2 separate regions of the Homo sapiens genome follow, and region 1 is linked to region 2. The links come from fine-mapping of genetic effects on gene expression. A gene starts in region 2. The other region holds a variant in brackets. All regions are shown on one strand. Distances are between the middles of the regions. Region 1 overlaps MTHFD1 (methylenetetrahydrofolate dehydrogenase, cyclohydrolase and formyltetrahydrofolate synthetase 1). Region 2 holds the start of MTHFD1 (methylenetetrahydrofolate dehydrogenase, cyclohydrolase and formyltetrahydrofolate synthetase 1).

The links. PIP is the estimated chance that this variant, and not a neighbour inherited with it, causes the effect. A credible set is the group of variants that fine-mapping cannot tell apart.
Region 1: its variant is the best candidate, but not a certain one, in a credible set for the expression of MTHFD1 in lung (TOPMed, PIP 0.85).

The regions. Positions count from the first base shown.
Region 1 is chr14:64,424,254-64,428,642 of GRCh38, reverse strand. MTHFD1 (methylenetetrahydrofolate dehydrogenase, cyclohydrolase and formyltetrahydrofolate synthetase 1) reads right to left here. Exons shown (of 28, transcript NM_005956.4): 9 at 3,712-3,839; 10 at 2,816-2,913; 11 at 2,451-2,624; 12 at 1,170-1,306. Among named protein-coding and RNA genes, the nearest start is that of MTHFD1, 38 kb to the right of the region's middle. The variant G/C (reference allele first, on the strand shown) is at 2,132.
Region 2 is chr14:64,386,608-64,390,996 of GRCh38, reverse strand. It overlaps MTHFD1 (methylenetetrahydrofolate dehydrogenase, cyclohydrolase and formyltetrahydrofolate synthetase 1), which reads right to left and starts at 2,644. Exons shown (of 28, transcript NM_005956.4): 1 at 2,529-2,644. The coding sequence starts at 2,569. RefSeq lists enhancers at 2,792-2,881, 3,402-3,461, 3,482-3,581.

The sequences.
Region 1 (4,389 bases), 38 kb before region 2:
GGCGGAGGTTGCAGTGAGCCAAGATCGTGCCACTGTACTCCAGCCCAGGCAACAGAGCGAGACTGTGTCTCCAAAAAAAAAAAAAAAGGTGGAAGGGTGAAGGTGTTCCCGGTGTCAACATTTGTAGTAATTGCTAGAACAAGCAAAATGTGATACCCTCACCAAGCAGAGAAAGCTAACTCTAAGAACCTATCATAATTAATAAACATTATTTTAATTAAGACAGCAGCTTGGCACGGTGGCTCATGCCTATAGTCCTACCAGTTTGGAAGGCTGAGACAGGCAGATCACTTGAGGTCAGAAGTTCAAGACCAGCCTGGCCAAAATGGTGAAACCCCGTCTCTACCAAAAATACAAAAATTAGCCAGGCATGGTCATGCGTGCCTGTAATCCCAGCTACTCGGGAGGCTGTGGCAGGAGAGTCTCTTGAACCCAGAAGGTGGAGAGGTTGCAATGAGCCGAGATCACACCACTGCATTCCAGCCTGGGCGACAGAGTGAGTGAGACCCTGTCTCAAAAAAAAAAAAAAAAAAAAAAAAACACATGTTCTTAGTACCGCAGCAATAAAAATCTGAAGGTAAAGTGCGAGTATGGTAGTAATTTAGAGCTTGAAATAGACATGGAAGAATCACTCTGGTACTTAATACAGGTGCCTTTGACCAAGCCACCTCTGAAGTCCCAGTTGCTGCTATTTTAAAATGGTGACAATACTATCTCGTACTGGATGATAGAATAATATGCAAAAACTGCTCAGCACAATATCTGGCACAAAGCATATATTCAATAAAGGTAGGCTTTTCTTATTCCCAACAAGGTGAAACATCTGTGGGGTTTGTCATTGTCTCTAGAGTGTCTGTAAGATGATCAGTAGCTATGATTACCTTTATGGTTACTGTAGCAGTGGACTATGAGGGTCAAATAAAAGCACCTCCAGCTACATATCACCCATCCCAGAGAATCCCTGTGCAGTGGCCAACAGTGACAGCAGGAGCTGGGGAGATCCAATGACAGCCTTCATCAAAAGCATGACTACAGAGGTTTGTGAGAATGACATTCCTGGTGTTGAAATGAGTTGAAGACCCCATAAGTATCATAGGTTGCGTGGGCCTGGGAGGACTGAAGGAGAAGCAGGTCCCCTGTCACCACCCATGGTCCAGTCTCACTAGTACCTTTTATTCCAAAGGTGGGGCCCTGAGAAGGCTGTCGCACACACGCAAAGACATTCTGGTAGAGATGGGCACCAAGGGCTTGCACTAGCCCGATTGTAGTTGTGCTTTTCCCTTCTCCCAGGGGTGTTGGAGTTATTCTTCAAGACGAAAGCAAAAGAGAAAAAGGTTTAAAGAATTAAGTGTATCTGAATCACTAAGTCATACCTAGCAGATCCTAGAGAATGACTCGTAATCTAAAGATTAAGAAAGACAAAGTCAGGCATAGCAGTGTATGCCTGTAGTCCCAGCTATATAGGAGGCTGAGGCAAGAGGATCACTTGAGCCCAGGAGTTCCAGGCTACAGTAAGCTATGACTGCACCACTGTACTCCAGCCTGGGCAACAGAGCAAACCCCCATCTCTTAAAGAAAAAAAAAGAAAGAAAAGACAAAGAAAAAGAAAGACAAAAGCCCTGAAAGATATCTTTTTCAAAAGTCTTAGTTGTAATTTCCAAAAAACTTTAAGAAAAAAAATGATTCCTGTATTTTAGCTCTTCTTGCTGTAAGAAGCAAATATACTTTATCTTGTAGAGACACGGCTATAATTTTAATTTCTCATTTTATATTCTCAAAAACTAGCTTTTTAATATAACCTCAGCCCAGCAATAAAAATGAATGCTTAGTAAATCCATCGAATTAATGAATTTTGGGTTCAAAAAGGTGATTCTGGCCGGGTGTGGTGGCTCACGCCTGTAATCCCAGCACTTTGGGAGGCTGAGGTGGGTGGATCACAAGGTCAGGAGTTCGAGACCAGCCTGGCCAACATAGTGAAACACACTCTCTACTAAAAATACAAAAATTAGCTGGGTGTGGTGCCTTGCACCTGTAGTCCCAGCTACTCGGGAGGCTGAGGCAGGAGAACCGCTTGAACTTGGGAGACAGAGGTTGTGGTGAGCCGAGATCGTGCCACTGCACTCCAGCCTGG[G/C]CAACAGAGCGAGACTCTGTCTCAAAACAACAACAACAACAACAACAGCAAAAGGTGATTCTATCTTAAGACCGGGTTTTAAGACCAAACTCTTCCACTTACTAGATGGATAACCTTGACCAATTTTCTCATCTATGATTATAATCTATTCTTACCTACCTCTCAGGATTGCTGTAAGGATCAAATGAGATCAAATACGGGTGAAAATGCTAAAATCAAATTAAAGGCACCTCTACATACATGTGCCAAGTGCAAATGCAACGCCTTAGTATCAGGACTGATACTAAGATTTGGATGGCAACATGAATAAAAAGCATACCCAGTCACCACCACGTATTTCCCATCAGGCCGGTGCTTCAGGCGTTCTAGTGCTGACAGCAGAACTTTGGCCTTTGTTTCACCATATAATTCTACCTCTTCAGACAGCAGACCAATTTCTCGAGCCAGCTTACCAATGGGCTTCGGTTTACAAGATCGTGATATATCAATGTCACTTTGGAAACATAGAAAATAGGTATTAATGTTTATCCACTGAGTTTAATTAATCCCACAGTAGTAACAAGCCCCCAACCCAACCCCAACCACTGAAGGCACCTTCAGAGGGAGCATATGTGAACCCACAGTATCTGTCAACTAAAAACCAACAATTCACAAAGTTTTAAATCAGTAAAACTTTATTTTTACCTTGGAACAGGTGTCTTGAGGTTAAGGTTGTTATACTGAATCATCCACTTTCCTGGCTTAAATTTCTCCAGGAAACGCTTGGCACTCTCTACTGTGCTCTAAGCAAAATGAAATAAATGAAACTTAGAAGAGGTGGTTATTTTAATCCTCACCTCAGTTTCAAGCTCCAGGTCACTCCAGTTCAATCACAAAATGAACTGCTTCAGACCCACTTATTACCATGCTTCAATCCTAGCTAAGAGTCAAGAGGCACCTAACATGCTTTGGGGCTGCTCGCCTGGCCCCTGTCAGCTGGTGCATGTTAGAAAGGGAAAACAGGCCGGGCACGGTGGCTCACACCTCTAATCCCAGCACTTTGGAAGGCCAAGGTGGGCGGATCACCTGAGGTCGGGAGTTCCAGACCAGCCTAACCAACGTGGAGAAACCTGTCTCTACTAAAAATACAAAATTCGCCGGGCGTGGTGGTGCACACCTGTAATCCCAGCTACTCAGGAGGCTGAGGCAGGAGAATCACTTGAATCAGGGAGATGGAGGTTGCGGTAAGCCAAGATCACACCATTGCACTCCAGCCTGGGCAGCAAGAGCAAAACTCCGTCTCAAAAAAAAAAAAAAAAAAAGAAAGGGAAGGCAAACCAAAACAGACCTGGCCAAGCCAGTGTGATCGCACTTTTCTTCTTTCAAAGTTATTATATTCCAAAACAGACTGGAATTATGCCATCCCTACTTTCCTCTATTAATGTGCCTGATCTTATTTCTCTATTCTTCCCTTCCCTTTTTCTCAATAAATTCACATCTTTACTTCTGAGTAGGTTTTTGACATTTCTACTTGGGGAGAAAAGCAGCCAAAACTCGATCAGCTTTTCAGAACTCTTATAGAAACTTTTATTCACAATTACCTGCATGAGCATTGCAACTGTCATGGGCCCTACGCCGCCAGGAACAGGAGTGATGAAGCTCGCCCTCTCTTTGGCCTCGTCGTATGCCACATCACCCACAACTTTTCTCCCATTTGGTTTTTTATCATCTGGTCAAGTGGGGGAGAAATCAAAACTAAGTCTCAGAATCACAGTCCTGGTGATCAGTTACGACAAAAACTCAGCAGAATTGTAGGGTGTGTTAGTCCCATCAGGCTCCAGTGCCTACTTAACTTAAAAGCTATGGAATGACAGATGTTTGCTATTTCTTAGGGAGAAAATTATTTTACCTGCAAAAATTCACAAGATGCATAAGTGGTTTTACAGAACCTGGAGAATCCTTTTGTAGTCTCTCAGGTGGCAAATAAAATACCAACTGTTTTTTATTCTTAAAACCAACTACCCAGTATATAATGAGCACCCATTTTAAAATGTTAATTTGCTAAAGCCTACAAAGGAAATTTTTTGGGTGCACAAAGATCCAACTCTGTCACAGCTGCCAGATATCGTTTCTACAGCAACTGTCAGCATTTTGTGAGCTCCATGTGTGAGCTGGAGGAACAATTCAACATCCAATTCCAAAGACACAGCTACTTAAATGTATGCTAAAGGCAAAGAATATAATTACACTTCCCTTAAAAGGACACAAGAACAACTACA
Region 2 (4,389 bases):
TCCGCAGGATGGAATGTGGGAAGTGGGCTGGATTTTTAAGAAATTCTAGGACCGGTGCAGTGGCTCATGCCTGTAATCCCAGCACTTTGGGAGGCCGAGGTGGGTGGATCACATGGGGTCAGGAGTTACAGACCAGCCTGACCAACATGGTGAAAGCCCGTCTCTACTAAAAATACAAAAATTAGCCGGACGGGGTGGCACACACCTGTAGTCTCAGCTACTCGGGAGGCTGAGGCAGGAGAATCGCTTGAACCTGGGAGGTGGAGGTTGCAGTGAGCCAAGATCATGCCATTGCACTCCAGCCTGGGCAACAAGAGTGAAACTCTGTCTCAAACAAACAAACAAACTAGCTGGACATGGTGGCGGACGCCTGTAATCCCAGCTACTTGGGAGGCTGAGGCAGGAGAATCGCTTGAACCCAGGAGGCAGAGGTTGCAGTGAGCCGAGATCACGCCATTGTACTCCAGTCTGGGCGACGAGTGAAACTCCATCTCAAAAAAAAAAATTAGCTAGGCGTGATGGCGGGCACCTGTAATCCCAGGTACTCAGGAGGCTGATATGAGAGAATTGCTTGTATGCAGGAGGCAGAGGTTGCAGTGAGCCAAGATTGGACACAGCAAGACTTCATCTCAAAAAAAAAAATAGATCTCAAGGCAGCAGCTACCATGTAAAAAAAAAAAAAGATAATGAATCATTCATATATACATTAACTAATTACTGATTATTAATACAACATATATCGAATACTTATTATGTGCCAGGAAGAATTATAAATGATCATCTGTTAGGAACCCATTTAATTCTACTAACATCCCAATGACCTAGACATTACTTTTACTTAACATTTGAGGAAACTTTGGCACAGAAAGGTTAATTAATTTGCTTAAAACCACACAAGTAGTAAGGCAGGAAACAGGGTTTCCAGGTGTTTAGGATATAGACAAAAATAAGACAATACATGTATTTGCCCTTATGGAGTTGATAAACATATTTAATTTGCTCTCCAATTAACGAAAGTATATTCAGTGAGCACCTATTCTCAGTACTGGCCCAGATGCATTATTATTGTACTAAATTATCTGCACTATTATTATGCACTAAATTATCTCTTCACAATCAGTCTTTCTAAAAGGAAGATTTTTATATTAAAACAAAAAGCCACTGGAAAAGGAAGTAAGTTTGAATACAAGCAAACAAAAACAGAAAGTAAAGCAGAAATACAGTTTAGCAAGCCACATGTTGAAAAGCACTAAGCAGTAAGTATTGTGATTTCTTTTTTTTTTTTTCTTAGACGGAGTTTCGCTCTTGTTGCCCAGGCTGGAGTGCAATGGCGCATCTCAGCTCACTGCAACCTCTGCCCCCCAGGTTCAAGTGATTCTCCTGCCTCAGCCTCCCAAGTAGCTGGGATTACAGATGCCTGCCACCACACTCGGCTAATTTTTTGTATTTTTAGTAGAGATGGGGTTTCACCATTTTGGATAGGCTGGTCTTGAACTCCAGACCTCAGGTGATCCACCCACCTCGGCCTCCCAAAGTGCTGGGATTACAGGCATGAGCCACTGGGCCCGGACTTTTCACCACCGATGACTTTGTAATTCACTCAAAAACCTATTACAAAGTTAGGAGTTACAGGACAATTACAATTTAGTAACTGCTGTGGCTGGCAACAGTTACTTACATAACGGGTGATGTGAAAGGTCCCAAGAGCAAACTCAGTAAGGTCACACAGAATATATCTTTCCCTCCTTCATCTACTAGAGGGAATATATTTTTCCCTCTTCCTTCTACTCTCATTTTTCCTCACCAGTCACCTCCCAGACAAAAAGCAGCCAGTGTTACTTCCTGGGAGTAAAGCTGGCAACGATACCCACTAATTAAGCATTCAGATGTCCCGCAAGGGTAGAACAGGCAGAGGTCAAGTGGAATGCAGAATATTCTCAGGACTCAGGAGCCAAATTACGTTTCAAGTAACTCTAGGACCAGGGCAGAGAGATGGCTGTTAGAGAGAAGCACGAGATTGAAGAGAAAGGAAAAATGTATTAGATTTCACTTAGCGTATGATAAGACTATGGTATAGTGGGAAAAGCTATGAGCTGGAAGGACCCTCTGTCATTATCAGCCTTGTAGTCTTGTCAAGCCTTGTCACCTCACTAGTCTCCATCTACTCACCTCCAAATTAACGGGAATTAAGTAGATTGGATTTCTGAGTTCTGACTAGGGGGGCTCCAGGAAGCCGCAACTACCCACTCTCCCGGCAGAAAGTCACCAGCAGCTGCGCGTTTGGGAGCATAGTCGGCACAGGACTTTTCCCCGAAGCACAGGAGCCAGCGGCTACAGCCACTAGGCAGTCCACTTGCAAACGCAGGTTGTGCCCGGGTTCTCTTTCTTTGGCTGCAGGTCTTCAGGTGTTATGGGCCTAACTCTTCCGCTACAAGTGTCCCTCCCGCAAAAAATGGGTCCGGGGGACCTGCACACCCTCAGAGCCCTCGTCCACAGCCCCACACTCAACAACAATGTCAGGTGCTTACGCGGAGATCTCCTTCCCGTTCAGGATTTCTGCTGGCGCCATGGCCTTTATTAGTCCGCTGCCCACGATGGACACCACCAATATCGAGGTTCCACTCCCTCCGCAGCCAAGCAGGACAACCCAACCCACGTGCTTAGGGACTGGCCAGGGGATCACACTACTGCGCCTGCGCCCCTGCCCGCTTCTCCCCCTGCAGACGCGGTGGCGCATGCGCAGTTCGGAAGGACCCGAGTCCCTTAACTAACCGAGAGCTAACAGGTCGGGGACTGCGGGACGGAAGAGGGAGGGGAAGATGAAGAAAATCGGTGATGAATGGCTGGCGGAAATGATTGGCGGAAAGAAAGAGCCAGTTCACAGTGCGCCTTTGTATTCGGCGGGAAACCCGGCCGAAGAGGGAGCTGGAAAGGACTCCGGAATCCGGCCGTAATTCCAGCCAATCAGGGAGTAGAGTTGCGGGGCGGGGTTGGGGCGGGGCAGTCTCGCGGGAGATAGTTTCGCGGGTTCGGGAGGCGAGTCTCCGGTTTCCGCCCAGTCTCTGGGGACGCGGTGGCGGGGTCTGAATCGCCTGGCTTCCAGGGAGTTTTGGGCGGGTCCCCGCACGGGAGCGTGGCAGGCGCTGGACTCGACAGCAGATGTGGAACTGGAGAGCTTGGCGCGCCCTCATACTTTGTCACACACCTACGCCACCAGACTGGGGTCGGGCCCCTCCGCGTTCTGCTCTGGAGGGCCTGGGTCTGGGCCCAGCATAGCGCTTTTAGAATCTCCTCAGCTGAATCTGACGCTCAGCCGTAGGTGAAGCTTAGCCCGCTGTTTCAGGCCCCGCCGATCTGGAAGGAGTGTCAGAGCTGGAGCGCGCGTGGCCTCATCGGTGTTGGGGTCACCCCGGGGTTGCCAGGGCTCATGGAGGGTCGTAGTCTGGATTTTGTCACCCCCACGTCCCCGCCCCGCAGCAAGTCTGGGGTTGGAGAACTCACGCGGTCTTCGTAAGCTACATGCCAGTTGACCCTCGAGGAGGGATGCTCCCTCCCCTTAAGCGTCCACGCTGGAGAAGGAGTAAGATGGACAATTGCCTGGGGAGCCTGACAGGGCGGTGGCAGCTGGGATGCTGGAGAGGACTGGCCCCTTGTGTTACTGAGTCCAAGGAATATGCTTGCTCTGCTCTAGGAACCGCGTTCAGGTTACAGTCATCCCAGTAGAGTCCTGAAGATGCGTGGTTCAGGTCACTTAGGACTTGACCAGATACCGGGTTTCTTTTACAAGCCGTTTACTACTGGCAGAGCTCATCTAAAACTTTTTTTGTTTGTTTGTTTGAGACGGAGTCTCATTCTGTCGCCCAGGCTGGAGTGCAGTGGCACGATTTTGGCTCACTGCAACCTCCGCTTCCCGGGTTCAAGCAGTTCTCTGCCTCAGCCTCCCGAGTAGCTGGGATTACAGGCACCACCTAATTAGCCCGCCACCACGCCCGGCTAATTTTTGTATTTTTAGTAGAGACGGGGTTTCACCATCTTGGCTAGGCTGGTCTTGAACTCCTGACCTCGTGATCCACCCGCCTCGGCCTCCCAGAGTGCTGGGATTACAGGCGTGAGCCACCGCACCTGGCCTAAAACTGATTTTTTATTAATTTTGGGGCTTTTAATATTTTTTTCTTATTTCTAAATTCTGAGGTTATTTATAGTAGCCCCATATACGGGATTAGATAATCTCTTGTGATTTTCTATTTCTGGTAATTATTTCTAATATATGTTTTTTTGTTTTTGAGACGGAGTCTCGCTATGTCGCTCAGGGTGGAGTGCAGTGGCATGATCTCCGCTCTTTGTAGCCTCTGCCTCCCGGGTTCAAATGATCCTCCCACCTCAGCCCCC